Linked DNA regions of Homo sapiens. The protein of the gene in region 1 purifies or fractionates together with the protein of each later gene. This does not show direct contact. Each region holds a gene or a part of one and is shown on either strand. Other genes may lie near its edges.

Region 1 (2,430 bases):
AGGATGAACAAGGCTGGCAACAAGGAGCAGGTGGAAGAGGAGCAGAGGAAAACAAAGGATCCCAATAACCAAGCCCCCTGTCAGATGGATCACTGATCTCCGAGACTGATGCCTCTGAGACTTCACTTAAGACGCAGTACAAACCCCAAGTCTCCAAAACCTCAAAATAGATCCAGCCAATTCATAATTTTGTTGAAAGATGCTTTATGTAATCTTTGGATTACCTAAATACATATTAATGAAGAGACGTATGATCAATGATAAATCTTATCGGAAATTTCATAATCAGAATAGAAATGATACAAAGGCAATAAGAGGATTCCAAGTTATTAAAATATGGAAGTAATAGCATTAAAACAATTAAATGTTGATTATAATTATGTTCAGTGTATAAAACAGTCAATGCTTTCCTGCGAATCTGCAAGCAGAGAAAAGTGACAATGAATGTATATTTAAGGTAGAGCCGGTTGCAGGAGAACCATAAATATAAGTGGTCAGTTTAACTGAGACAGATTTTTCAAAGTGTGGTACCAGGTTCAGATTCCTTAATTCAACATGGCAAATATTGATTGGGTTCTAGTTAGTAACAGTCCCCATGGGAAGCAGGAAATACCAAAAATTGGGTGCTTTTTGAAATTCTGAAAGATGTGGCAATCAAAATGAGCCCAATTAGCATTTTACCTTCCAGAATAAACAATATTTTCTTAAATTGATAAATGAACAAATGAATGAATAAGTAGATAATTATATAAGTTTCAAAGAACTAGAAGGGAGGTTCCTAATAGAGGTTAAATCATCAGTATTAAAAACTGAAAGAACAGGCAGTCATTTGGCTTTCATAAGGTTAAATAGTTTTAGTTCATTTATAAATGTCTGCATTAGCTCTTCACAATTAACTCTTCATAGTATCAAGAGTTAATGTCTTGTCTTCCATTTTTGTACTAAAATATTAAACCAGAATGGCAAAAATGTCTACTAAAAGAATAAATAAGAATAAACAATAATAATAAAGTTCAGCATGATTTGGTATATAGCTTATGGTAAATGAGAACGCATTATGACTTATTTCTAAGAGTAGACATACAGACAAAATAAACAGAATAAGTAGACAAAAAGTAACATCACACATACGCACAGATTTTCAACTCTACTAATAATAACATTTAGTATTTAGATAAGTATATCTCACAGTTCATTTTCTTTCTTTTTTTTAAACAACAGAGCATCTGTGGAAATAATTTAGTGAAACTTTTTTTTTTTTTTTTTTTGAGACGGAGTTTTGCTCTTGTTGCCCAGGCTGGAGTGCAATGGCGCGATCTTGGCTCACCGCAACCTCCGCCTCCTGGGTTCAAGCGATTCTCCTGCCTTAGCCTCCCAAGTAGCTGGGATTACAGGCATGTGCCACCATGACCAGCTAATTTTTGTATATTTAGTAGAGACGGGGTTTCTCCATGTTGGTAAGGCTGGTCTTGAACTCCCGACCTCAGGTGATCCACCTGCCTCAGCCTCCCAAAGTGCTGGGATTACAGGCGTAAGCCACCGTGCCTGGCCCAATTTAGTGAAACTTTTTTACTACAAATCATTTTCTATAGATGCTTCATAGCACTTCCTTTAAAAAGAAACTGGACACATTAATTTTTTTAACTAAACATCTGATCCTTTTCCTTGTCATGTCAGCCCTATTTTGAGCTCTTAATGTCATTTACATTCTCAATGTGAAAAATGACATCAAAAATAAGATAACGCTTTATATAGACTGACTTTGCCTGCTTTTTAATGAAAAACATCTACTAAACCACCATTTCTCATTCTGTTCTCCCAGTCTCATCAACGTTGTAAATTCATGCAAGCCAAAGGAGCTTATTCTGCCAACGTGATCTGCAGGCTAAGCACAAGGTGACATGATTTAGCTATAGAAGACAAGCCAATGATTTGTCTTCCCAGTGCATTAATATCCCAAAAGTATATTGCTTGACTCTGGTAGAATGCCAGTTCATAGTAGATACTGAGAGTATAAATTTATTCAATTAGGCAAGGAATGTCTGCAGCTTCTTTCAGATTCCACTGCAAACATATCAACAAACATTGCTTTTACTAGTTTTTTATTTGTTTGTTTGTTTTGCCACTGGTGGTTTAGGTATATTCCTGCCTGGAGAATAAAGCCAAGGCTCTTGGGAGCAAGAACCATAAATTGGTTCTATTTTATTCATATTTTACAGCTCAATATGGAACATACATTGGGTGTATGACTAGTGACATCTGGAAGTTTATTCTAACACATAATGTTTAAATATGGAATACATTTTTAATTTTTTAAGTTAAGAAGATAAAATCAAAGAAATATTGTTTCAAAAGAGGTCCACAGACATATGGTTTATAAAAACACCTATTTTACATAGCTTAAGCATTCATCAGAAAAGAAACAACCCA
Region 2 (3,500 bases), on another chromosome or scaffold:
AACACCCATGGACACAAACTCTCCCTGAAAATAACAATGTTTCACATACTCATGATGATTAGTTTACACAACTGACACATGAACTAATAAAATTAAACCAGGTGACCCTTTCTTACTATGTTCATAACATCATTACTGTGTAAGGAACTATCATCAGCACCAGGTACTGGTGACAAGGTAACTTTCATGGATATTATTTCATTCCACGCTTCCATATCATATGTGAAGTAGGCCAGGGAAACCTAATCCTCATTTTACAGATGAGGAAGCTGTGGCATAGAAGAAAAAAATTCACCCCTACTATGTATCAGGCATTGTGCCAGGTGTTTTCCATGTGCAATCTCCTTTAACCCTCACAACCCTGTGTATAATAGTAATGTCATGTAAAAGATGACAAAACAGCTCAGAAAGGTCAAGGCTAACAAACCCCGAAGTTTACTTGTTAATAGGCAGCTGAGCTGAGAAATGAACCTAACCTGACTGACTGCTAAGGCTATATTCTTTTTATATTATATCATCAGGCAACAAAAATAAAATAGAGTGACCTGTGCAAATCACTAAATCCTTACCTCTGGGGTTCCAAACCAGATGTCCCTGACGTGGTCACAGATGGCTTTTGCAGCAGACATGGCACTGGATAGTTTTCGAGCCTTGATGACAGCAGCGCCACGCTGCTGCACAGTCTGGGAAGGGGGCAGGTGAAGGCAGCAGTATTACTTGGTCATGATAGCAAAGTTTTCATTAATTCCAAGTCGACCTTGGGGTGAAAAGCTATGACCAGAGCTTAATGTTTCCCCTCCAAAATCATGCAACAACCCAATGTCAGCCTTACCAATCCTTCTGGAAAAAGGAAACTATGTATCTCCATACAAAGTTTATCATAGGTCAGACAAAGACATGGATCTTGGTATAAATCTCAACTGCTGTCACATCAGATCACACTAGATCATGACTGGCTTACTATGATCCCGAAAGTATGCAGTCATCAGAGCAACTGTGAAAGACCTGCCCTCTTTAAGGTTTTCTGTCCTAAGAGTCTCTCAAGAGTTCTTTACGCTCAGTGTTAAGAAGGCTCACAGATTTTTCTTACCGTGACAAATTCTCCCTTGAGCCAGCTGTCATCTTTCAGAGCTTCATAAACACCAACTTCCTTTCCTTGCAATTTCACCTTGGCATGGTTGACATCTGGATACTGAGTCGAGGAATGGTTTCCCCAGATAATGACATTCTTTACATCATTAGCAGTCACACCAAGTTTAAGAGCAATCTAGTTAAATTGAAAACAAATACATTACTGAGACAAATGGTTTTTATTTCCAATTGGGACCTGTTTTGACAAATGCCCTTAAATAAAGATAAAAAGCTTCTGAAATTTCAAGAGAACACAAGAGTTATATTGACTTGTAAAAAATGTAAATTTATTGCTTGGCAATTTCCTACAACAGCTTAACAGTGGTAACAACTGTGGACTTGAAACCTTATGGAGTAGAATGTTTAAGGGTATGAAGCATCCCATAGTTTGTGGTTAACTTATTAGTACAGTAGGTGTATCAAACATAAAACATTAATCGTTACTATTATTTATCAATTTACTATTTCTTGAATATGTAAATGTGATCTTTTGTTTCACTGTTAATGTTTACTTGGAGATGTCTTCTCAGTGCTTCTGAGTAATCAGGTATTTAGGCACTTTATATTTAGGTAAAATTTTTATTATATACCATATAGAAATTAATTTTCAAATAACCCTAAATATGAAATTTTAGAGTTGGATAGGACTCAAATTACCAAGATATGACTGTCCTCATTTTATATATCAGGAAACTGAAGGAAAGAGGTTTTATATATGTGTATGTGTGTGTGTGTACACACATATATACACTCTAAAATTATAACATATGTAACAATCTCTAGCTATAACTCCAGAAAGCACTTTAGGGTCCTGCAATGCCTTGCAATCACATGTAGTACAGTAGCCACAAAAAAGGTTAGAAAGTTATGTCTTGGGCTGGGCATGGTGGCTTACGCCTGTAATCCCAGCACTTTGGGAGGCCAAGGCGGGCAGATCACCTGAGGTTGACAGTTCGAGACCAGCCTGACCAACATGGAGAAACCCTGTCTCTACTAAAAATACAAAGTTAGCCGGGCTTGGTGGCACATGTCTGTAATCCCAGCTACTTGGGAGGCTGAGGCAGGAGAATCGCTTGAACCTGGGAGGCGGAGGTTGCGGTGAGCCAAGATCGCACCACTGCACTCCAGCATGGGCGATGCAGCGAGACTGTCTCAAAAAAAAAAAAAAAAAAAAAAGAAATGTCTTGGTAGATTTAAATAAAATCAGCCTGCTTGTTATTTGTCTGATAAGTTTATGTGCAGAAAATAAATTATGATCAGGTATATGTATAATTTGTTCCTAACTAGACAACAGAATTTATGATGAACCAGAAGGGAATGTGGAAAAATATTTTAAGAAGCTGATCTGTTTTGGTGACATTGTGGGCAATTCTTCCTTCCTCTGTGTCCCAAAAAGAATGGGAGAAGAAACTAGTTGTGCCAGAGTCTGTAGCTTTAGCACACATAAATAAAGCATTTGAGTATTTACCATGTAAGAAAAGGAATACACTTTGATATTTTAAGGAAAATTTTAAAATAAGGGTAATAACAGCTCCAAACTGAAACAACTCAAATGTCGTTCAAGAATGGTTAAATATGCCAGGCGCGGTGGCTCACACCTATAATCCCAGCACTTTGGGAGGCCGAGGTGGGAGGATCAGGAGGTCGAGATGGAGACCATCATGGCCAACACGGTGAAGCCCCGTCTCTACTAAAAATACAAAAATTAGCTGGGTGTGGCAGCGTGTGCCTGTAATCCCAGCTACTCAGGAGGCTGAGGCAGGAGAATCTCTTGAACCTGGGAGGCGGAGGTTGCAGTGAGCCGAGATCGTGCCATTGCACTCCAGCCTAGGCGACAGGGCGAGACTCTGTCTCAAAAAAAAAAAAAAAAAAAAAAAAAAAAAAAAAAAAAAAAAAAGAACGGTTAAATAAACTGTATTATGTCTTACATAGGCAATGGAATAAATAAAAGGGGTAAGTGGAAAAACAACAAAAAGAAACAAACAACAACCTGGATGGATCTTAAAGGCATTAAACTGAGTGAAAAAGAGCCAGTCTCAAAAGGTTCCTTACTGCATGATTCCACTTTTGTAAATTCTCAAAATGACAAAATTATAGAGGTGGAGTGCAGAAAAATGATGTCAGGGACAGAGGGTGGTGTGACCATAAGGGAGAGTATGAAGGAGTTCTTTTGTGAGTGATGAAGAAATTCTGTACCTTGACTATGGGGGCAGTTACAGGAATCTACACTTGTAATTAAATGTCATAGAATCATTCATAAAGACACAGAAAAAAATAAGTGAATATAAAACTGGTGAAACTTCAGTAAGTCTAGTTAATAGTATTGTGTAGTTCATCAACTTCCTGGTTTTGATAATACTCTGTAGTTA
Region 3 (3,500 bases), on another chromosome or scaffold:
TTCCGATCCCCTGTTTCCTTCTCTGACTGGAATCTGAAGCAAACACCCAATTTAGTACTTGAAGTTGGAGGAGTGGGTGTTGGGAGAAGGGGAAAAATTACCTTCCCTGGAGAGACAGAACTACATCACACCACAAACTAAATGAACCCCTTTATAACTTCTCACAGTAATATTAGAGGAAATTTCTGAACCTGAGCAAACACTCAGCATAGTTTTGTTATAAAGTAAACCCAAACCAAACACCCCAAACTGTCTAGTCATCTAGGAAAACTGGTGAAGTTTTTGGCTTTGAAAGTCTTGGCAAGAAAGGGCTTAGGCACAAACCATCACACTGCCTCTCTCATTATGTACTAATTAGAAATGGAACAAATTATTTTACAAGATAAACAAATGTTTATGAAGGGACTCAGAGGAAGCTGGAGGGCCAAAGTTCCCCTGGGATTTCTTCCTCCTAAGATTCTCTCTCCCCCATTCCTCTTGTCCCCATCCTAAGTACACACACATACACCACAATGCTTTCAGTCAGTCCTCTGAGTAGGGACTTACGTGGCATTGCTGAAACCCATGTATTCATTCCCAGCCATTTTGTTGAGATACTGCAACACCTGGAAGAGAAAAAGGGACATTGAGGCTCCACTTGGTTAAGAAGCTCTATTAATACCTCACAGGTTGACTAGCCCTTCTGAACTCAGGTCTTGTCAAGAGGCTTTCCTCTCTGAGGCCAGCAGATTTCCACATTTCTGGAAATAAGGCTTCTAGTATGGGCTGGTGCACCTGGTAGTGGGGTTAGAGAGCCACTGGGGCAGCTGGAGAGGACAGCATGCCATGGCGAAATGCAGCCAGGGGCTAAGTAGCAAGGGAACTTACAAAATCAAACTTCTCTGCTTTGTTACAGTCCATCTGCAGAGAAAGAGAGAGATGTCAGCATTCTAAGTGTAGGAGGATGACAGAGGGAAGGGTCAGAAGGATCTAGTGGAGTTCTAGTGTTAGTCTGGTCCTGCTGCTGCAAATGTGTTCAATTTTATAATGGCCCTTTTTTTATCCTTCTGAAAACACCGCACTTCCATTGGCTCCTCTCTTTCTCTTTCTTTTTTTTGAGACAGTCTTGCTTTGTCACCCTTGTCACCCAGGCTGGAGTGCAGTGGCACGATCATGGCTCACTGCAGCTTTGACCTCCCAGGCTCAAGCGATCCTCCCACTTCAGCCTCCAAGTAGCTCGGATTACAGGCATGAGCCAGCTTGCTGGGCCATCCCACTTCCATTCTCAATCCAAACCCTCATCCCTGACTCCCACGTTCATTTTCCTGACTCGAATCCTGTCTCCTAGCCCCACCCTATCCCTGATCTCCATCCCCATTCCTTACACCCCATGCTGGAGCTTTACTCCATCCCATTGGCCAGCATGATGGTTCATGCCTGTAATCTCAGCAATTTGGGGGGCTGAGGCAGGAGGATCGCTTGAGACCAGGGGTTTGAGACCAGCCTAGGCAACATAGGAGAGACCCTGCCTCAATTTTTTTTTTTTTTTTTTTTTGAGATGGAGTCTTGCTCTGTCGCCCAGGCTGGAGTGCAGTGGCAGGATCTCGGCTCAACTGCAAGCTCCGCCTCCCGGGTTCATACCATTCTCCTGCCTTAGCCTCCCGAGCAGCTGGGACCACAGGTGCCCACCACCAAGCCTGGCTAATTTTTTGTATTTTTAGTAGAGACGGGGTTTCACCGTGCTAGCCAGGATGGTCTCGATCTCCTGACCTCGTGATTTGCCCACCTCGGCCTCCCAAAGTGTTGGGATTACAGGCGTGAGCCACCGCGCCTGGCCTCTATATTTTTTAAAAAAGGTCCTACTTAGATGGGAATGGGATGAGGCAGGTCCCAGATACAGGTTTGTAGATGGAGCCATCACAGAACAAGGGGAGAGACTCAGCCTCTTTTCCTCACCCAGACTCATTGCTTACTCATGTGTCAACTACAGAGTCAATACCACAGGGACTCTGATACCTGAGTCCCTGAGGGGAGGATTCCTAACACCACCTTCCCCAGGAGGGGCTGTGATTGGCTCCAGGGTGTTGCTGCCCAGCTGCTCCCAGGTTCTTGCTCAAGCCCTGGGAGACCTACAGCTGATGGGCTAGTCTGACACCCTGTTCAAGGCCAACTCACAGTTCCAGGTGACGTGAATAACTGCCCTGGCCTGGCCATTCACCCTTGCCTGCAGGTGTCCCACACCCAGAAGTGGCCAATCAGTGCCCAATAGTGCTGTCCTCCCCTTGTCTCTGGCATTTGGCCCTTGGTCCTAGGCAGGGGTCAGGACCTGCTCACTTCTCTAAGGGTCAGAAAGCTCTAGGCTCTAGACTCATGGGTGGGGGCAGGGAACAGTACTGAGTGGGGATGACGGAGGTGGTGCAGTCTCTTATACTGACATTGTCAGCATAACATGTGGGTCCCTGCTGTGCCTCATGTGCCTTCTGGGGACCCTCAAAGGAATCAGAGCCCCACCAGTCTCCCTGGAGAGCTGAACAAATATGAGGGATACAGGAACACAGGAGCTTAGAGGATAATACCTATCAGAAGGTTAAGGTGGCACTGACCTTGATCAGGGAGCTGACAACAATGGCACCAGCATTGACCATGGGGTTATGGGGGATTCCTGGGGAAATACAAACCACCAAGAGTCTTAGCCACTGAACAAAGCCTCCCTGACAGCCCGCTCACTTTGTGGGTTAGACAAGAAAGACTGCTAGGGAGAAAGGCATGACAGGGCTAATCAGGAAGGGCAGAGAAACAAAAAAGGCTGGGAGATGGGGTGGGGATAAGGAGAAGGGGACAGCTGTAAGTACGGTCTGAGCCTTGGTAGTGCTCACCTTCCTCATTGAGGGAGAGCTTGTTGTAGCGCAGGCCACTTGGCTCTTTGCCCACAAACTTGTGCACGTAGTCAGTGCCTAGGGTGCTTATGGAGATGGCATAGGTGAGGGGCTTCACACAGGACTGCAGGCAGAAGGGGATCTTTGTGTGGCCCACAGAGTGCCTGGAGGCAGACAGATGCCATGAAAGGGGTTGGCCTGTGTTCGGCACCTGTGCCCTGCCTCCCCTTCCTCTTGCCCAGCATCTCACCGTTGACCATCCACAGTGCACAGGGAGACACCCCACAGGTCTGGGTTTGACTTGGCCAGCTGAGGGATGTAGGCTGCCACCTGGACATGAGTGGGTAGAGAAAAGGGAGATGGATGTGGAGAAGAGGAACAGAGTTGAGGTTGAGGGTCAAGAGAATCTTTTAGATAAAAGCTAAAATTCTGTCTTCTATAGGGCAGAGGGGTTCCCTCCTGCCTGTTGCTCCCAGAAATGCCCGAGCCTTAAGTCCTAGAAGGCCATATCTTTGTGTATCCGCAATCCTGTAGAGATAGCAGTAAAGCCAATGGAAGTTAAAAAAGGAGAATTCTGAGGCAACCTTCCCCTTTTGGTTCTTAGGCTCAGTTACCCTATAAATCCCTTTGAAGGCTCTATTCGAT
Region 4 (3,500 bases), on another chromosome or scaffold:
AATAGTGCCGCTGTGAACATCTGCAAAGAAGTTTTTTGGTGGACTTCAGTTTTCACTTCTCTTGGGTTACACTTAGGAGCAGAACTGCTGGGTCATGTGGTAACTTTATGTTGAATCTTTCAAGGAACGTTTCAAGGAACCTCAGACTGTTTTCCACAATGACTGTGTTTTACATTCCTTCCAGTGGGGTGTAAGGGTCATGGTTTCTTGTTTCTTCACGTATCTTGTAATTTTTTTATTGAAAGCTGAACATTTCAAATAATTTAATGCGATAACTTTGGAAACCAGATTCTCCCTCTGCCCCAGGATTCTGTTGTTACAGCTGCTTATTTGGTGACTTTTCGGAACTGACTTTGTAGACTCTTATTCTTTGATGTATGTGGCCACTGAAGTCTTTACTTGGTTAGCTTAGTGGTCAGCTAAGAACTGCATGGAGATTTCCCTAAACTAAGAACTCTCCCGGTCTTTGCTGAGGGCTCTGTGTGCGTTTGGAGGGGATGCCTTCCACACTCAACAGGCAGCAGACAGCTCTGCCCTAGCCTTCACTTCCTGCTTCTGCAGAGATCAAGGTCAGCTGGAGGTGAGGGTTCAGGGCCTCGTTGGTCCTTCCTGATGTGTGCACAGTGCTGTGCATGCGCCTGGCCTAGGTTCCCAGGAATATGCTGGAACCTTTCAAAGCTCCAGCAGACATCTCATACTTTGGCTTTTCCTTTGAAGCTTTTTGGGCAGTCTGTTGTTGGCTCTAACTGTTACCTATCCCCTCAGGCAGCTGTGAGAAGAAAACCTCAGACAAATGCCCCCAGAGAAAGGCTTTTAGCCCTGGCTGAGCTCCGGTGAAGTTGGATGAAGATGACCCTATAGTTGCTGACTCTGACTCTTCTTTGTGGGGGGGCTTTGAAAGACCCCAGCTGAGTTCTGCTCTCTCTGACACATCACTGTTCAGGGCTGCCGCTGAGGTGGGAGTGGGACCAGAGTGAGTTAAAACACCCTGGAGTTCCCATTCTCACTCAGCTTCAGCTGTTTTTCCTGACTTTAAATGTTCCCTGTGTTGCTGCAAGCCTGTGGTTAATTTCCATAATTCTGAATCTCCCAGTTCTTGCCAGTTTTATCGCTGTTTTTAACAGAGAGGTGAATAACTCCTGGCCCAGTCTTGTGGGTTGTGGGGGCAGAGTTGAGGAAGGGGCCCCGGGGTGAGGGGTTGGGGGGCAGCTGCAGCAGGGAAAGCAAATGGGCTGGGGGTGAGCAGAGAGGTTTGGCTGAGACCAGTCCCCACGGGTCTCCCAGGGAACCGTGTGCCGCCTGCTCCAAGCCTCTAAGTAGGCTGCAGCCAAGCTCTTGAAGACCACGGCTCTCTCGGCCTGGAGGCCACACCACCTCTGACTTAGACCCAGGGGCAGTCCGGTGGAGGCAGAGCAAGGGGAGGTTCTGCCACTTCTTGGATGTGACCCCAGCCTCCACTTCGTCCTGTGCTTACTGTGGAAACAGGGAAAGGAGCGGCCCCGAGGAGCACAAGCACCCCCAGTCCTTAGAGGCCGTGGGACTTGTCTGGCCGCCAGGCAGCCACAGCAGCCTCTAGAGGGGGCAGGTTGCTTATGCACAGAGGTGGGGCTCAGGGCTGCGTGACTTTGTAGGATGACACTGTGCAGTTGTTCAAGGCAGCTGCTGCAGACAGGGTCCCAGTGATCCCCTCTCCTGGCAGCTGGGCTCATGGTGGTTCTGCTTAAAGAAGGCCACAGCCAGCTTCCAGCAGCCCAGCGGTCATTGGGTTTCTCTGAGGCCCCAGGCAGAGCTGCACGTGCATCCGCACCAGGGAGCACTGCACAGGGGCCCTGGCCTGGCCCGGCCCTGCTCTGCACCTCACGGGCAGCTGCTGACGGCTCTTTGGGCTCACAGGGGATCCAGCAGGCGCTCCTGGTCCTTAGGAGGCAGGCAGCTCAGGGCTGCTTCGCTCTCCCTGCCACGCCCTCCCAGGGTGTCTGCCAAGGCTTGCTTGCGTTTTAGTCCCTTTGATTGCCAGACCTTTCGGTTTTCCTTGAGTAAACCTGAGAAATTCCTGACTTTATTTTTTTTTGCCAGTTGGAAGCATAAACTGTTTGAGATCCGCTTCCTCCACCAGCACATCTTGTTCTCATGGCCGCTAAGGGGACGTTCACCCTGGGCCTCCCACCTGCTTGGCCGCCCCTCTTCAGGTGACCTGTATGATTTCTGGGCTCAGAGCCCACCCGGGCCAGCCCTCGAGAGTGTGAAGTCCGTCCTGGCTTCAGCCAGGTGCCCTCAGAGCTGCCCCTCAGTCCCTGCCCACCTCAGCCTGTGGCACTTACCCCCTGTGCCTCCTCTCCTCTGGCTGGCCTTGTAGGCCACCCCTGCCGCGCAGACACACCTGAGCTCTGCTGGCCCTGATTTGCTGACCTGTTCTCTCCCCACTTCCTCTCTCTGAGTTTGGATCCCCCAGAACCCAGGTGTTGCTCCCTGGGGCTGCATGCCCCTGTCTGTTTGATGTGTCTGTCCAGAACCCGGGCAGACTTGAGGGGTCCCAGCTGTCTGCCTGTATGGCCCCTGCAGTTGCTGTACCCACCTCAGGCCCTGTATCCTGCTCTGAACCAGGGTCAAGGGGAGGGTCCTGGGGAACAGAGGGGAAAGGTACCCTGCGAGGGCACCGGGACCTGGAGTGCAGCAGCTTAGATGCAGACAGGCCACCTGCAGCCCCAAAGAGGCCACAGCCTGCAGACAAGGACTGGCAGCAGGGAAGCCCTGTGCATGTGTGCCCTGGGAAAGCTCTGCTTGATTCTGCAAAGCTGGCATCCTCTTTAAGGAAGCCCTAGGACAGGCCAAATGGAGCTCTTGTCCAAGGGGTCATTTCTGTCTTGACAGATCGAAGGTGCCTTGGAATATGGAATCACAAGTGATGACATCTTCTGGCTGAAGGAATCCCCTGGAAAAACGTAAGGCCTGCGCGTGCTTGGTGGGGTCCTCTTTTTGTTCACCAGAGTGAGCACTGGACCCTTAGAGCCTGTGCTGGTGCTGGGCTCCTGGGGCTTTCTTTCCGGTTTACCCAAAAGAAGGAAAAAAGGCCTGTTATTTGTGGCCAGGTGTGGTGGCTCATGCTTGTTAGCCTAGCACTTTGGGAGACTGAGCGGGAGGATTGCTTGAGGCCAGGAGTTCGAGATCAGCATCAGCCTGGGCAATATAGTGAGACCTCTACTCTACAAAAATCTGTTTTGGTTTTTTTTTTGGCTTTTTTTTTTAGGTGAATTCTCACTCTGTCCCCCAAACTGAATTGCAATGGCCCAATCTTGGCTCACTGCAATCCCTGCCTCCCAGGTTCAAGTGATTCTCCTGCTTCAGCCTCCAAAGTAGCTGAAATTACAGGCGCCCACCACCACATCTGGCTAATTTTTGTATTTTTAGTAGAAATGGGGTTTCACCATCTTGGTCAGGCTGGTCTTGAACTCCTGACCTCAGGTGATCCGCCCACCTCGTCCTCCTAAAGTGCTGGGATT
Region 5 (3,500 bases), on another chromosome or scaffold:
AATGCACTTCAAGGAACTAGAACAACCTACAGGAGAGGAGAAAATATTTGCGAACTACCCATCTGACAAGGGATTAACAAGTCAATAGCAAAACCCCCAAATAATCCCATTAAAAATTGGGCAAAAGATCTTAACAGACATTTCTAAAAGAAGACATAAAAACGGCCAAAAGGCATTAAAAAAGTTCAATATTACCAATGCAATCAGAAAAACCTCAAAACCACAATGAGATATTACCTAACCATATTCAAAATGGCTAGTTTCAAAACGACAAGTGATAACAGATGCTGATGAGGGTAGAGAAAGGGGAACCTTTATACACTTTAATGGAAATGTAAATTGGTACAGCCACTATGGAGAACAGTACAGAGGTTCCTCAAAAAACTGAAAATAGAACTACCATATAATCCTGCAATTCCACTGCTGAGTATATATCCAAAACAAAAACATCAATATATCAAAGAAGTATCTGCACCTCCATGTTTATTATGGCACTTATTCACAATAGCCAAAATATGGAACCAACCTAAGTGTCCATCAGCTGATGAATGGATAAGGAAAATGTGGTATACACACAATGGAATATTATTCAACCATAAAAAAGGAATAAAATCCTGTCATTTGCAGCAACATGGATAGAAATGGAGGTCATTATGTTAAGTGAAATAAGCCAAGTATAGAAACACAAATATTGCATGTTCTCCCTCATCTGTGGGAGCTAAAAAAGTGGATCTCATAAGGATAGAGAGTAGATTGGTGGTTACCAGAGGCTGGAAAGGACAGGAGGGAGATAGGGTGAAGGAAAAATAAAGAATATAAATGTACTTATTACCACTGAACTGTATACTTAAAAATGGCAAGGATAGCAAATCTTATATGTGTATTTTATGGCAACAGAAAAAATTAAAAATTAATTTTTTAAAATAAAATGGATGGGGAGATCAACGGAGTTAAAGAATATTTCTAGGTCAAGTAATAAAAGGTTTGACAATCTTTGTAAATTATGTGGATAATATGATTTCTACTACAATCACTAGAGCCAGGCAATAGATTTTTCCAGCCTAAATCAAAGGGGTCTATTATGACTAAATCATACATAAGTCACAGAATAATTGCTTCTTAACTTGTGATGTTTCACAATCCCCAGTTTGAGTCCTTTTTCCTATCACTTTAACAACCCACATCTCACCACAAACAGTAGGGCCATTATCAATTGAGATAGAAGATTTGACTTTTGTTCCCCAACTGACCTGTGATGTTGAATTTACCTTTTCCTTATGAGCTTTTGGCATCTTATGACAAACAGTATCCTCCTCCGAAAAGTTTCTAATTGACTTAAGCTTTACAAGACATCCTAGGACCAAAGGAATCACTTGGGTGGCAGCACGTACATATCAACAGATCAAATGAAAACCTAATTAGCGTTGATCCTTGAACAACATAGATTTGAACTGCACAGGTTCACTTACACGCACAGTTTCTTCTGCCTCTGCCTCCCGTGAGACAGCAAGACCAACCCCTCCTCTTCCTCCTTCTCCTCAGCCTAAGCAACATGAAGATGAGGATGAAGACCTATATGATGATCCACTTCCACTTAATGGTAAATATATTTTCTCTTGCTCATGACTTTCTAATACCATTTTATTTTCTCTAGTTTACTTTATTGTAAAAATATAGTGTACAATACATATAAAATATAAAATATGTGTTAATTGACTATATTATCAGTAAGGCTTCTGGTCAAGAGTAGCCTATTGGTAGTTATGTTTTGGAGGAGTCAAAAGTTATATGCAGATTTTCAACTGCATGGAGTCATTGCCCTTAAACCCCTGCGTTGTTCAAGGGTCAACTGTAAATATATTTTTCATATCAGTTAGGGGACATACAAATTTCAAATATCCTAAATTAGAAGGGAAGGCTGTTTATCATCTGGGAGCACTGTTTAAAAGATGAGAGAGAAACACAGGAGTCTAAAATAACATGACTCCTGGAGAACAAAGTGGAAGAAATATTAAACCAGATACATATTAGTGCCCCTATAATAAGCATGTCTGTAAGTAGTAAGTTATTGACGTATTTAGCAATCTATGCTATCTTCCTTTTTTGTGTAACTGGTGTTGTGATGGATAAAGAAGAAACTGTCTTGAGCAACTTTCTGGAAGAAAAAGTCCATAGTATCCTTTCTTGAGGAAAGAATTTATTTCATTAAAAAATACTCTTATATCATTCTATACAATCACAAATGTTTCTCTTCAAGCAAAGACTCAAACACTAGCTAATTCTTTTACTTTTCCTAATTAAATACAAAAAGGGTAAGTTTTTTTAATTTTTAAAAACTTTAAAAAATGTTTTTACTACTGTAACCCATTATTCTGTAACAATAATTTAATTAAAATTCATTAAAGCAAACCAGATTACAGTTTTCATATTTCCATGAAAAAGAAAACTACTCTGGTTTAAGATAAAGATAAATGGGAGTCATAGATTAATTTAGATCTGAGAATGAATATAGAGAATCTTATTATTCATGGAAAACAAAGGAGAAAATATACCAGCACTTTGGGAGGCCAAGGTGGACAGACTGCTTGAGCCCATGAGCTCAAGACCAGCCTGTCCAACATGGCAAAGGAATATAAAAATTAGCTAGGCATATTGGTGTGCACCCGCAGTCCCAGCTACCTGGGAGGCTAAGGTGGAAGAATTGTTGGAGCCCAGGGAGGTCGAGACTGCAGGGAGCCGTGATTGCGCCACCGCACTCCAGTCTGGGTGACAGGGTGAGACCCTGTCTCAAAAAAAAAAAAAGAAAGAAAAGAAAATAACAGATCAAACTGAGGACCACAGATGTGGTCTCTTTATTGTGGCAACTAACCAGTGGTGTTTACATCTGTGGAGTTCCCGGAACCCAGAAGGGAAGAAGATGGAATAACTAATGCCAGGGGGAGAGGGAGAGAGAACCAATCCATATAAGAAGTCAGAAATACAGACATATAAATAGATCTAGAGAAATACACCCAAGAGGGGGACAAGATACAAGCAGTGGCAAGGAGAGATTCTACAGACAGATATGTAAAAGAATATAAATATGTGTATCTCAGGAATATGAAAGCATGCCCTCTAAAAAATTTAAAAATTGTATTGAAATTTCCTAACTATAGGCGGAAATCAAACGTAACTTGAATTTTTGAGCCAGATGAAATTAAGCAGTGTTCACTAAGCTTTTGGTAGGAGTTGAGTACTCCCTTAGTGGGCATCCTGCTTTAATGGTTAATAGGTCTGGGTAATTGACCACATGCTCTGTATTTAATATTTAAGAAAGATTAGGCTAGTGAATGATGTTAAGAGCAGGTAATTTTTCAAAGTCCTTGTGTTCACAATGAGGAAAACTAGGGGGAAATATTGATAGATCAACCTACAATATTTCCACCTGGCTTTTGCTTACAGTCAACACCCCCTACCCACCCTTGCCCATCCCCGGCCACAACTGCTCCCACCCCCATCCT
Region 6 (3,500 bases), on another chromosome or scaffold:
GCTGAGTGTTCACACTGAGCCAGTACCATGCCCACCTGGGTGTCTCGCCTTCTGGCATCACAGTCCCAGCCTCCCTCACTCCCAGTGCTGTTTCTCGTGACCGCAGCCGACCGTGCACTCTCTGTCTCCCACCTCACGCAGCGGATGACGGAGGCTTTGAGAGTGGCGCGTACAACAACAGCGCCATCGCCACCCCGCACCTGGACGCCTTGGCCCGCCGCAGCCTCCTCTTTCGCAATGCCTTCACCTCGGTCAGCAGCTGCTCTCCCAGCCGCGCCAGCCTCCTCACTGGCCTGCCCCAGGTGAGGTGCAAGGGGCGGGAGGAGGGGGTGGGCAGGGAGTAGACAGGCTGCGTCCGGGGCCCAGGCCTCTGCCACGTCTCCCATCCCTGGGATCCCGGGGGGTGTTGCCCACTTTCCCTCCCACCTCCAGGAGGAGGCACAGCCTATGGCTGTGAGTGCAGACTAGGGGCTCCGACTCACCCGCCAGCCCTGGCTGCACTGCTGTGTGTGGCCTTGAGCAAGTCACCTACCTCCTTGTGCCTCAGTTTCCTCATCTGTAAGATGGTGGGTGTAATGAGATGCCACTCTAGTTATGGAGATTGGCGGGGCTAATGCTTTGTATGTAAACACTTAGTGCGAGGCCTGGTGGGCTCACTCAGCGTGAACCGCCATGGCCACAGTGTCCCAGGAACGCCATGGTGCAGGGAGCGGACACCGTTAAGGCACACATGCTCCTATTTTACTGTGGTAAAATGCACAAACATCAACATTCCCATCTTAGCCATTTTTCAGCGCACAGTTCCGGGGCATTAAGTGCATTCACAGTGTTATGCAGCCATCACCACCATCCATCTCCAGAACTTTTCCATCTACCCAAACAGAAGCTCTGTCCCATGAAACACCAGCTCCACATTCTCCCTCCCCATCCCCTGTCTCTATGAATCTGACTGCTCCAGGGGCCACATAAGAGTGGAATCACACAGGACTAGTCCTTTTTTTTTTTGAGTTGGAGTCTCACTCTGTCACCCAGGCTGGAGTGCTGTGGTGCGATCGTGGCTCACTGCAGCCTCTGCCTCCCCGGTTCCAGCGAGTCTCCTGCCTCAGCCTCCCGAGTAGCTGGGATTACAGGTGCGCGCCACCACGCCTGTCTAATTTTTGTATTTTTAGTAGAGATGGGGTTTCATCATGTTGGTCAGGCTGGTTTCGAACTCCTGGCCTCAAGTGATCTGCCCGCCTCGACCTCCCAAAGTGCTGGGATTACAGGCGTGAGCCACCGAGCCCGGCCCCCCTTTTGTGTCCTTACTTCACTCAGCACAATGTCCTCAGGGTTAACCATATGCTGTAGCACGAGTCAGAACTTCCCTCCTCTTCAGGGCTGACTCATATTCCAGTGGATGGATGGGCCCCGTATTTTGCTTCTCCATATTCATCCGTCAGTGGGCACTTGGGTTGCTGCTACCCTTTGGCTGTTGTGAATAAAGCTGCTATGAACATGGGTGTTTAAGGACACTTGTTCTTTTAGTCTCACTCTGTTGCCCAGGCTGGAGTGCAGTGGTGTGATCTCGGCTCACTGCAACCTCCACCTCCCAGATTCAAGCCATTCTCCTACCTCGGCCTCCCGAGTAGCTGGGACTACAGGCGCCCGCCACCACGCCCAGCTAATTTTTGTATTTTTAGTAGAGACGAGGTTTCACCATGTTGGCCAGGCTGGTCTCCATCTCCTGACCTCGTGATCCACCTGCGTTGGCCTCCCAAAGTGCCGGGATTACAGGCGTGAGCCACCACGCCCGGCCGGCAGTCTGAGTTTTTAAAATGTACACATCTTTTACAATATAAAATAACTAGGTAATAAAACAAGGCCTGACCCTGTCTTTTTCACTCTGTAACGTGTGATCATAACAGAAGAGTTCAAAAGTACGGATACGCAAAAAGAACATCAAGGCCACCCTCGTGTCGGTGCACGCCCTGCAGGTCCCCTTCTTTCTGGCGAAGTCCTCCTTTCACGGGAGGGACCCATGGGCCTATCGGGCAGGGAGTGGGAGGTACAGCCAGTGTCTCTGGGTGCTGGCCACTCGAAGTCTAAATCAGGGCCCCGAGAAGGCCCCTGGGGATGGGAGGGCCGTGGGAGAACAGGTGCGGCAGGCGGGCTCTGGCTGTCCGGGGGCCCCGGACCTCATGCGCCTTTGCTGGCAGCATCAGAATGGGATGTACGGGCTGCACCAGGACGTGCACCACTTCAACTCCTTCGACAAGGTGCGGAGCCTGCCGCTGCTGCTCAGCCAAGCTGGTGTGCGCACAGGTGAGGACCCCGTGCCGAGGACAGGGCGTGGGGTGAGGCACAGAGGCCAGGCCAGAGCCCAGGAGGTTCGGCACCTTGTACCAAGGCACGCTCAGCCCCCGTGGCCTGCCCTTAGCTCTTGTCCCAAAGGATCTGGGCCTGGGTCTCCTGGCTGGGCTGTGTGTCCACGAGAACCCACAGTGCGCTTAGGGCCGAGAGGGGCAGAGAAGGGAGCAGAAAGGGTTGGGAGGCTGAAGGGACTCTGGCCAGGCCTCTCTTCCCGCCCAGGCATCATCGGGAAGAAGCACGTGGGGCCGGAGACCGTGTACCCGTTTGACTTTGCGTACACGGAGGAGAATGGCTCCGTCCTCCAGGTGGGGCGGAACATCACTAGAATTAAGCTGCTCGTCCGGAAATTCCTGCAGACTCAGGATGACCGGTATGAGTCGGGGCCCCTGCCCCTTCCCCCTGGCGGCCGGTACCAGAGCACAGCCCGGAGTCTTCCGGCGGGATGCATGGGCCCCCACGTGGCTCGAATGGGGGCAGGGGAGAAGGTTCCAGGTACTCGAGTTAGCCTGGTCAGAGGGAGAAGGGACGTGGGGAAACTGAGGCAGTGAGGGTCACAGGTTGACTTCCAGATACAGAGGAGGAGGCAGAGCCGAGGGGCTTCCTGTGCCACGTGGCAGTGGCCCCGCAGCCTTGGCAATGAGCCTCCTCCCGTGCAGGCCTTTCTTCCTCTACGTCGCCTTCCACGACCCCCACCGCTGTGGGCACTCCCAGCCCCAGTACGGAACCTTCTGTGAGAAGTTTGGCAACGGAGAGAGCGGCATGGGTCGTATCCCAGACTGGACCCCCCAGGCCTACGACCCACTGGACGTGCTGGTAGGACGGCCCCTCCTGTGTTTCAGGACGCCCGTCAGCCCTGGGTCGGGGACCCTGGCCTCCTACGAGCTTGCAGCCCTGGCCCTAGATGATGAAGAAAGAGGCTCTGACCAAATCGGATTCAGGTTCCCAACCTCGGGGCCACAGAGAGAACCGTAGAGAGACGGGGTGGTCCGGAGTGAGGCTGTTCTGGGCTAACCCATTTGCAGGAGGCCCCGGGGAGAAGGCTGGACACCGCTCCCCCGGTCTGTCTGTTCTAAGCCTGGCTCCCCACCGCCTGCCCCAGGTGCCTTACTTCGTCCCCAACACCCCGGCAGCCCGAGCCGACCTGGCCGCTC
Region 7 (3,500 bases), on another chromosome or scaffold:
GACCTCCCCTGGAGCCCCATCAGGGAACAGCTAGAGTTTACAGCCACTTTCCAGAGAGACAGACCTGAAGACCAAATTATAGGAAAATCATAACACCTTACTTTTCTGAAATTTGCTAAGATGATAATGAACTATTACAAGTAAAAATTGCTAGCATCAAATGCTTATAGTAAGAAAGAACTCAGCCAGTGGCTCATGCCTGTAATCCCAGCACTTTGGGAGGCTGAGGCAGGTGGATCACTCATTAAGCTCAGGAATTCATGACCAGCCTGGGAAATGTGGCAAAACCTCGTCTCTAAAAAAAATTTAAAAATTAGCTAGGTGTGGTGGTGCATGCCTGTGGTCCCAGCTACTCAGGAGACTCAGGTGGCAGGATGGCTTGAGCCCAGGAGGCAGAGGTTGCAGTGAGCTGAGATCACGCCACTGCACTCCAGCCTGGGTGACAGGGCCAGACCCTGCCTCAAACAAAACAAAACAAAACAAAACAAAACAAAACAAAACAAAACAAAACAAACTCCTATGTGAAGGATGTAAAGTTAAAAAATATGATCAATGTTTTGCTATAAAATTGAAAATTTCCTTTACTCTTTCCAGCTTTATACAATTTAGTATAAATAAAACACTTCAGTTTTTCAAGTTCATTGGCATATAACTTCATTGTAATAAAATTTTAAAACATTTAAAACTATATTTAGAATGGCTGTAATTTCTGTCATGATAAATTAGGCTTCAAGGTTTACTATTACTAATTTTTTTAAAAGAAAAGTTATATATGACACATTATCATGCTTCTAACTTTAGATTTGTATGGCATGTCAGAATTACATATAACAGCTTTAGGTAATATAAAAAACAATGCTTTTTGGAAACAGAACTATTTAGAATCTAGCTGTGTGACTTCAGGGAAGCTATTTAAAACTTTCTAAATCTTTTTACCTGCAAAAATGGAGCTAATGTTTTCTTCAAAAGGGTGTTTTGAGTACGTGGCACAAAGTAGACCCTCAATAAGTGTTATTCTCCCATTTATTTTATTTCAGTACATTCTAAAATGGCAAATATTCCCTGATAGCTTCAAAATTTCTAGATATTTTTCTAATGAAATAGTACATTTTGTTAAGTAAAAAGGAAACTACAATTTTACTCAAATGAACACTGAGTATATAATATTATTTCACACACTTGTGTTTTAAAATTACACACCAGAAGAGAGTGATAGCAAATCCTATGTTTAATAGACTAACTAGAACAACACTGACTCCATAACCATTTAACAATGGTCACATTTAAGGTAAAAGGCCTAAAAGTAAAGATAATTATAGAAAATGTAGACATTGCAAAAATCCATCCTTCTCCACAGATAAAATGCTGCTGTGGCTTTGACACCAATCTTTTCTCCATAATTCTGATATAATTTCACACATAAGTTTCCGTATAGTTGAAATAATAAAAGCCTTTACAAACCTAGCAAAGACACATCAGCGATGATGAAGTATCCTCCATCAGGAACTATGGGTTTTAGGCCAACACTTTCAAGTAAACGTACCATCCGATCTCTTTTTACTTCTAACTCTTTTGGCAAAGAATTAAAGTAACATTCTGGGTCATCCATGCGCTTGATGTCAATCCAGAAAGCTTGAGCCAAGGCTTCCTGTTTGTTAAGAATCAAAAAATATGAAAAGGCATATGGCAATGTTATTTATTGCTTAGTTTATTGGTATAATAAATAGAGATGATCTGAGTAAAATTATTGGCAAAGAAGTCACTCAGGAAATAACAGTTGAATTCCTGTGAACCTATATTAAACTCTATAGGTTAATGGAGGAATCAGTTATACCTAAATGATTAAATCTCATGTGAAGAACTGAGAAGGAGTCCTGAAAATTCAAATTGAAAAAGAGCTGTTACTTAAAGGTGGCTTGCTTGGAAACAAAAAGACATTAAGATATTTTCTGCTGAGGTGAGTTGTAGAATGACTTGCTAAATCTAAGTCAGAAGAACAACCAGAGAGTAGTCAGCCTCTCACCATTACATTTGGGGACAGAGTGGAAATGAAAGCTCACCTACTGTGCAAAGGAGAAATGTGCCTTTCTTATTCTCCATAGGTGTGGAAATCCTTGCTGGAATTATTCATATGCCAGGAAGTTGGTCAAAGTGTAAGAGGGACTAGAAATGAGTTTCTGGAACATCTACAGTAATTCCTCTATCTTTCTTCAAGAGCCAGGACAGCAAACTGGGCCAAGGAAAAAGCCAATGTTGTTAAGTATAGTGGACTGAATGTTTGTGCCCACTCTCATATTCATATATTAAAATAGTAAACCCCAAGGTGATGGTATTAGGAGGTGGGGCCTTTAGGAAGTGATTAGGACAGAAGGGTAGAGCCCTCAGGAACAGGATTAGTGCCCTTACAAAGGAGGGTTAGCTTGCTCCTTCCACCATGTAAGGACACAGCAAAAGGCACCATCCGTGAAGAAGCATGTCCCCACCAGACACCAAATCTGCTGGTGCCTTATCTTGGACTTTGCTGCCTCCAGAACAGTGAGAAATAAATTTCTGTTGTTTATAAGCCACCCAGTCCAACTAAGACATTAAGGACCAGGCAGGTAAGAGAGACTGTGTGGCAAGAGATGAGACTGGAGACAGAGAGGGGCAAGATCACAGAGATTTTATGCCAAAAGAATGCAGTAAAACAGAATTAGTAATAAATCTCCAGTACTACAAAATCTTGGAAAATAAGGATCGATTGCCTTAGCCTGGAAATCTGTGGTTTCCTGGAACCAAACATGGTTGTCCCAGGACAAAACAGAGCACCTAGCTGAAATGGAGAATAAGAGTGTTCAGAAAAAGATGTTCTGCATTCTTAGCTATATCTTTTTTTTTTTTTCTCTTGGCAACTTGTTCATTTACTATAGGAGATACTGCCTTAGAAAATTCCAAGTATAAGGAGACATAAACATCCATCCTAACTACAGCATTATCCTGGACTCCTTTCTTTTTCACATATCCCATATGTAACCTATTGACAAATAATGTTGGCTCTACTTTCAAAATATATTCAGAGTCCAATCACTTTTTACTGCTTCTACCACCCCCATCTTTGTTCAATGCACTGGCATTTCTCTCTTGGATCACTGTAACAGCTTTCTCACTCAATGAGGCAGTCAGAGTCCATTTGCTAACACAAGCCAGACCAAGTCACTCCTGAGTTCAAAACTCTCTAGTGACTTCCTATCTCACTCAGTCCTTACAGTGACATGCATGCCCCAGCTCCATTGGACTCCCAGCTACCTCTCTGATCTTAGCTTTTCCTACTCTTCTCTCAATCATTCCATTCCAGTCTCTGTGCTGTTCTCTGATATTAACATGCCAGCCAGGCTGTCTACCACTGGGCCTTTCCGCTTGTTCTCTCTGTCCAAAGGGGTTTTTCTCTAGGTAACCATGTGGCTGCTTAATCCCCTTCAGTTAGTTGTTCAAATGTTACCTTATCAGGGAGGCTTTCAAAG

The links.
Region 2: the proteins of OXCT1 (region 1) and MDH1 fractionate together in Homo sapiens (co-fractionation; one large-scale study listed by BioGRID). This does not show direct contact.
Region 3: the proteins of OXCT1 (region 1) and SPRYD4 purify together in Homo sapiens (co-immunoprecipitation; one large-scale study listed by IntAct). This does not show direct contact.
Region 4: the proteins of OXCT1 (region 1) and TXNRD2 fractionate together in Homo sapiens (co-fractionation; one large-scale study listed by BioGRID). This does not show direct contact.
Region 5: the proteins of OXCT1 (region 1) and AADAT fractionate together in Homo sapiens (co-fractionation; one large-scale study listed by BioGRID). This does not show direct contact.
Region 6: the proteins of OXCT1 (region 1) and SGSH fractionate together in Homo sapiens (co-fractionation; one large-scale study listed by BioGRID). This does not show direct contact.
Region 7: the proteins of OXCT1 (region 1) and KYAT3 fractionate together in Homo sapiens (co-fractionation; one large-scale study listed by BioGRID). This does not show direct contact.

Annotation. Positions count from the first base shown.
Region 1 is NC_000005.10:41,731,996-41,734,425, forward strand, and holds part of OXCT1 (succinyl-CoA:3-ketoacid coenzyme A transferase 1, mitochondrial isoform 3 precursor), read right to left. Parts: intron 1-2,430. UniProt on the Homo sapiens protein: Key enzyme for ketone body catabolism.
Region 2 is NC_000002.12:63,602,463-63,605,962, reverse strand, and holds part of MDH1 (malate dehydrogenase, cytoplasmic), read right to left. Parts: intron 1,268-3,500; coding exon 1,091-1,267; intron 684-1,090; coding exon 570-683; intron 25-569; coding exon 1-24. UniProt on the Homo sapiens protein: Catalyzes the reduction of aromatic alpha-keto acids in the presence of NADH. Plays essential roles in the malate-aspartate shuttle and the tricarboxylic acid cycle, important in mitochondrial NADH supply for oxidative phosphorylation.
Region 3 is NC_000012.12:56,475,078-56,478,577, forward strand, and holds part of SPRYD4 (SPRY domain-containing protein 4), read left to right. Parts: coding exon of another isoform or gene 1-106; 3' UTR 107-546; coding exon of another isoform or gene 547-605; 3' UTR 606-867; coding exon of another isoform or gene 868-900; 3' UTR 901-2,582; coding exon of another isoform or gene 2,583-2,641; 3' UTR 2,642-2,855; coding exon of another isoform or gene 2,856-3,019; 3' UTR 3,020-3,105; coding exon of another isoform or gene 3,106-3,185; 3' UTR 3,186-3,500. Other genes in the region: GLS2 (glutaminase liver isoform, mitochondrial isoform 1 precursor), read right to left, coding at 1-33, 547-605, 868-900, 2,583-2,641, 2,856-3,019, 3,106-3,185.
Region 4 is NC_000022.11:19,910,819-19,914,318, reverse strand, and holds part of TXNRD2 (thioredoxin reductase 2, mitochondrial isoform 5 precursor), read left to right. Parts: intron 1-2,871; coding exon 2,872-2,942; intron 2,943-3,500. UniProt on the Homo sapiens protein: Involved in the control of reactive oxygen species levels and the regulation of mitochondrial redox homeostasis. Maintains thioredoxin in a reduced state. May play a role in redox-regulated cell signaling.
Region 5 is NC_000004.12:170,083,457-170,086,956, forward strand, and holds part of AADAT (kynurenine/alpha-aminoadipate aminotransferase, mitochondrial), read right to left. Parts: intron 1,538-3,500; exon of another isoform or gene 1,293-1,537; coding exon of another isoform or gene 1,269-1,292; intron 1-1,268. UniProt on the Homo sapiens protein: Transaminase with broad substrate specificity. Has transaminase activity towards aminoadipate, kynurenine, methionine and glutamate. Shows activity also towards tryptophan, aspartate and hydroxykynurenine.
Region 6 is NC_000017.11:80,213,834-80,217,333, reverse strand, and holds part of SGSH (N-sulphoglucosamine sulphohydrolase isoform 1 precursor), read left to right. Parts: intron 1-141; coding exon 142-302; intron 303-2,195; coding exon 2,196-2,301; intron 2,302-2,568; coding exon 2,569-2,719; intron 2,720-3,005; coding exon 3,006-3,162; intron 3,163-3,448; coding exon 3,449-3,500. UniProt on the Homo sapiens protein: Catalyzes a step in lysosomal heparan sulfate degradation.
Region 7 is NC_000001.11:88,947,630-88,951,129, forward strand, and holds part of KYAT3 (kynurenine--oxoglutarate transaminase 3), read right to left. Parts: intron 1,649-3,500; coding exon 1,462-1,648; intron 1-1,461. UniProt on the Homo sapiens protein: Catalyzes the irreversible transamination of the L-tryptophan metabolite L-kynurenine to form kynurenic acid (KA), an intermediate in the tryptophan catabolic pathway which is also a broad spectrum antagonist of the three ionotropic excitatory amino acid receptors among others.